Regions from separate parts of the Homo sapiens genome. Here region 1 is linked to region 2. The links come from fine-mapping of genetic effects on gene expression. A gene starts in region 2. The other region holds a variant in brackets. All regions are shown on one strand. Distances are between the middles of the regions.

Region 1 (2,921 bases), 23 kb before region 2:
AAGTTCATAAGGAGGACTGACTTTTTATATACCCTGGTTCCACAGGTCAACTGTGGGGCCTGAGCATGCCTGCATGGATTTGGGTATATGCTGGAGGATGGGGTCATGGAATAACCCGAGTATGCTGAGGGAAGACTGTATATCCAATTTTATGTTAGACATTCTTCCATTTAACACTGAATCAGAGAACTCATAACTCTGACTTTTTTTTTTTTTTTTTTTGAGATGGAGTCTCGCTCTGTCGCCTAGGCTGGAGTACAGTGGCCTGATCTCGGCTCACTGCAAGCTCCACCTCCCAGGTTCACACCATTCTCCTGCTTCAGCCTCCTGAGTAGCTGGGACTACAGGTGTCCGCCACCACGCACAGCTAATTTTTTGTATTTTTAGTAGAGACAGGGTTTCACCATGTTAGCCAGGATGGTCTCGATCTCCTGAACTCATGATCCACCTGCCTTGGCCTCCCAAAGTGCTGGGATTACAGGCGTGAGCCACCGCACCTGGCCAACTTTGACTTTTTTAGTGGGCTAAATAAAATATTCTACTGAGCCAGCTTACTGGTTCATGTAATCATTCCTTTATGGCTAACAAGACTGTTTCCAACTTTCAACATTATAAGATAAAATAACCACTTTTAAGCATGAAGGTTTTGTTCTCCCATATTTAGAATAATTTTCTTGCAATAAATAAAAAAGGAATTTTAGGTCAAAGCAAATAAACATTTTTAAGGCTCTGCAATACTTACATCCAAATTGCTTTCCAAAAGATTTCTAAGATTTTATACTGCTACTGGCAATGAAACAGTCTATCACTTGGATATATCACCTCTACTCTGTTGACTTACCTTCCCACTTAAAGTGCAAGATATTCAAGAGAAGGAAGTATATTTTATTAAGTGTTTATCCCCAGCATTTATGTGTACCACAAAGCAGACAACCAATAAATAATTGCTGAATAAAGAAAATCCCTGCCAATATAAGATTTATGTGTGTGTTAAAGACAGAATGTGTGTTTTTCTCTAATAGATAAAAGGTTACTGTCTTCCTTAAATGTGCACTGTCTTCCTTAAATGTGCATTTCTTTGCTTACTAATTAGTACTTAAATTTCTCTTTTAGGTTATTTTTTGGAAATTCAGATTCTCTGAGGCAAAGTTCTGGCCCTACCCATCAGCTGTATAACCTTGGGCAAGTTCAGTAACTCTAGGTCTTAATTTCCTCATCTATAAAATGGAGATAAATTCATGTATCATAGGGCTCTTGAAAGGAGTAAATTAACACACATATAAAACTGAGAAGAGTGCCTGGTGTACAAAATATGATCAACGCAAAATGAATAAACATACGAACAGAATTAGTAGAGAAGAGCTTAAAATGAAAGTTAATCTCCTCCTCACTCACACATCCAGCTTCCCAGAGGCAACCATTTCTTTAAGCAGGTTTTTTAAATCACAAAATATGCTATACATACTGAAAAGTGCATAAAACACACTATCAGGGAATACTCATGTA[A/G]CCATATACCCAAGTTTGCAAGTACAACTAGCTAGCATCTCTGAAATCCCCCATATCTTCTACTCATCACAAGCCCCTCTCCTTCTCCCAGAATTAAACACCGTCCTCATTTTCCTAATGATCATTTCCTTTATATGCATGCATCCCTAACAATCTAGTTTTGCCTACTTCTAACTTTATGCAAAGGGAATCATAGTGAATGCACACTTCTGCATCTTCTTTCTTTCAACATTGTTCTTACAATTCATCTGTTGTTGCCTGTAGCTCTTGTTCATTCAATTTTATTACTTTTATAGTTTTCTCAGTGTACAAATGCAATCTAATTTTTAATTCTTAATGGACATCGGGTTGTTTTCAGGTTGGACTATTACAAATAATGCACGTGGACCCTTTTGCACCTGTTTTTCTGGTGCATATACCCTCAGATGACTTGTTGGGTCCCAACGTATTTATATACTTTCCATTGATAGACAATGCTAAACGCTTTCCAAAGTAGGTGTGCTCACTTATACTTCCGGTGTAAGCAGGGTGGAAGATTCTTATTACACTCCAGATCTACAATACCTGCCACTATAAAATTTTATTTTTTGCCAATCTGATAGGAGTGTAGTTGCATCTCATACTGATTTCAGTTCATTTTTCTCTGATTACCTATATGGCTGAACACTTTTCCATACTTATGGGCTACTTGGATTTTTTTGTGTGTGAGGTTTAAGTCAACCATTCTTCTTTTTAATCCTTCTCTAGTTCTAAATAACGTATTAGGTAACTACATGACCGGATTTTAGACATTATTTACTAACTTCCTGCTTTACTAAGTAAGAGTTTGGTTCATTCTTACTTATTTACTTACTTATAGCCACTCCTCTCAATAAAGTTGTTATCACCATTAGTTTTTCCATTGGTCATGATCTCTTCAACTTCTAGTGATATACATTACTTAAAAATTTAAATTGTTTATCAACTCTAAATTCTCTCAATGCCCTGCTTTGTAAAATAGGGACATGTATACTTTTGTCCCTTCTTTCCACCTGTGTCCACCTTCCAAACTTAGCTTTTACACTGTTAAAGTTAATATTTATATTCTGTTCTATATGCAGAGCTGTTTGTTTTTTGAGAGACAGATAGATCAGTGTTTAAGAGAACAGGCAGAAAGCTTAAGCTCAAATCCCTGATCCAACTCTAAATTTAAGTACAGCTTGGGCTTACTTAAATTTAGCTTCTTTTCTGAAAAGTAGGACTAATAGTAACACCTACCACAGGTTATTCTGAGGATCAAATGAATTAATATAAGCAAAACACTTAGAACAGTGTCCAATACGTGCTAAATCTGATACAAGCTAGTTATTTTTGCTATCACATGCAAATTGATAATCAAAGCTACAGACCACGGCAGTATTTCCATTACTACGATT
Region 2 (2,921 bases):
CTGCCTCCATTATGTAGAAAATGCTAAGTGCTCAAAGGAATAACAGCATTTTGTCATATATCATAGTTGACCTAACATATTTTCCGAATAATCAGAGAGTCTGGATCCCTAATTATACCACTATACATTTACAAATGGCTTGTATTTGTAAAGCACTTTACAAACTTCTTATATACACCTTAAAAAATGAAGACAGGCCGGGCGCGGTGGCTCATGCCTGTAATCCCAGCACTTTGGAAGGCCGAAGCGGGCGGATCACCTGAGGTCAGGAGTTCGAGACCAGCCTGGCTAACATGGTGAAACCCCATCTCTACTAAAAATACAAAAATTAGCCGGGCATGGTGGCGCGCGCCTGTAATCCCAGCTACTCGGGAGGTTGAGGCAGGAGAATCACTTGAACCCGGGAGGCGGAGGTTGCAGTGAGCCGAGATCTTGCCACTGCATTCCAGCCTGGGCGACAGAGTGAAACAGTGTCTCAAAAAAAAAAAAAAAAAAAAAAAAAAAAAGACAAAGGCTGACATGTATTAATTTCCTACCTGCTTAGTTCTCTATCAGGCAAATCAAAGTCATTCAATAAAATAGGTAACATCTGTCAAATGTTTAATGATGTCCCAAACTGTGCTAAGAGCTCTGCAGGCATCAGCAGCGCAGGGAATCCTTGCGAAGGCGCACATAACCTGGGTCTCGTTATTAAGCCCATGTTACGGATGAGCACACTGAAGCCCTAGAGACCTTAAGCCACTCACCTAGCTCGTGAGTGTCCAGGCCGCACACCCCTTCTATTGCACACATACCCCGACAATGGACACCACTCACCTAAAAACCCACTTCGCCGCACCGACTGAGGGGCCCTGGAGGCGGGAACTACAAACCTGTGTCCCCCAGCCAGGGCTGGAAGAAGCTCTTGATGGAGACCAAGGGCAGGTCTTTATTGATCTTGAGGGTGCTCAGCAGAGGCGCCCAGTCCACCCCGCGGAGGCGGTCGGCGTTGAAATCCAGCACGCCCTCCCGGAGACAGGCGCGCACGGCGGGCAGCGGCACCGAGTTCTGCAGCGCGCACAGGTACTCGTAGTGGGAGAAGAAGTCCGCCGCGCTGTCGCGGCGCAGCTTCACGGAGTCGATCATGGCCCGAGGGCGGCCTCGGGGGATGCCCGCCGCGGAGACGCCGCCCGCGCCCACCCAAGAACGCTGAGTCGCAACCCGGCCGCTCCGGCACCCACGGCCAGGCGATAGCGGCAGCCCCGCACCGGGCTCAGGAGCGGTGATTCGGTCGGAAGACGCAAGGCCAGAGCCCCAAGCTAGGCCGGCCCCTCAACGCCCCACTCCCGCGCTGCCTCCCGCCCTGCGGCCCAAGCAGTTGGCGCCCGCCTCATAGTCCTCTGAGGCGCCGGGATTCAAGCCGGTGGGCGGTGCCGTGGAACGGTGCGCCAAGACGTCAACGTGCTCGCTGTGCGTCGGCACGCAGGTCCCGCCTCCTGAGGACGGGTGAGTTCGCTGCTACCTGAGATAGTGGTCGGGAGAGTTTGAGGGTTTGCGAAAGAGTTTACTGATCGATCCGAATAAAAGTGAAATGTGTGGTCGGGCGCGGTGGCCCACGCCTGTAATCCCAGCACTGTGTGAGGCGGGGGCGAGCGGATCACCTGGGGTCAGGAGTTCGAGACCAGCCTGGCCAACATGGCGAAACCCCGTCTCAATTAAAAATACAAACATTAGCCGGGCATGGTGGCGGGCGCCTGTAATCCCAGCTACTCGCCTGTAATCCCAGCTGAGGAAGGAAAATCGCTAGAACCCGGGAGGCGGAGGCTGCAGTGAGCCGAGATCTTGCCATTGCACTCCAGCCTGGGCGACAAGAGCGAAACTCCGTCTCAAAAAAAGAAAGAAAATAAAAAGTGAAATGTGGATGTAACAACGCACTTTTAAAAAAAGTCTAAACATCTGAGGAATGTGTCTGTGCTTGCAGTGTCCAGCCAGCACAGAGACTGCACTCAAGGGATGTGGGAACGGCTGATTGAACGTGAACTGCGGTCATTAAATCTTTTATGTCTGTGTTAATATCTACAAATAAGCCTTAATTTCTGTAGTTTCTGCATATCTCACACGGTTCCTGGCAAATTGAAGAGTGTTTCATGAATTCAGGACTTTATTGTGTTTGCTGTGAATCAGTTTGTTTTGTACTGACGATGATGTTGGCTAACTCCCTTGTAACTAGTACTTATTTGAAATAATGTCCTCGGGATTATTTTAAGCAATGTTTAAGTATGAAATCATTTCATTCTCCTAACATCTCAAGGAATATACTATTATATTCTACTTTACAAAAGGGGAAACTGAGGAACGGGGAAGTTAAGTGGAAGCTAAGTGGAAGAATCCAGATAATTGACCTCTCCTTCTATTGGTATGCAATTGCTAGAGCAATGATAGTCCTCCGGTAGAGCCTTAGACATTGTGTTTATTGCATTCCTGTTCCACCCACTGCATTCCGGATACTCCAACTTACTTCCAACACACATATGCAGGCGTCTCTAAAATTCCGGAGATATGGTCACCAATTATTTTTATGTGCGACATGCTCAAATCTTAATATAGTAAACGCTTGTATATTCATAAACCAGCTTAATAAATGAAACATTACCATTCCTGTTGAAGAGCTTTGTGTAACCACCTTCCCAATCACGACTACTCTCTGACTCTGAGATAACTGCTCTTCTGAACTTGGTATTCATCGTTGCAATGTATGTCTTTATATTTCTGCTACATATGTAAGTAAGCAGTATATAACATTCTATATTTTCTTTTCCTACTTTACTTATCGTTACCTTTACTAGGTCCATCCGTGTTGACATATAGAGATATTCATTTATTTTCCCTGTTGTTATATGGGAGTTCCATGTAGAAACATACAGTAATGTGTCTGTTTTTCT

Evidence for each region. PIP is the estimated chance that this variant, and not a neighbour inherited with it, causes the effect.
Region 1: its variant is the best candidate, but not a certain one, in a credible set for the expression of CEP78 in substantia nigra (GTEx, PIP 0.65).

Annotation. Positions count from the first base shown.
Region 1 is chr9:78,258,008-78,260,928 of GRCh38, reverse strand. All of the region lies in intron 11 of CEP78 (centrosomal protein 78), which reads right to left. Among named protein-coding and RNA genes, the nearest start is that of CEP78, 23 kb to the right of the region's middle. The variant A/G (reference allele first, on the strand shown) is at 1,507.
Region 2 is chr9:78,234,555-78,237,475 of GRCh38, reverse strand. CEP78 (centrosomal protein 78) reads right to left here and starts at 1,401. Exons shown (of 17, transcript NM_001330691.3): 1 at 873-1,401. The coding sequence starts at 1,125. RefSeq lists a silencer at 1,008-1,377 and an enhancer at 1,003-1,672.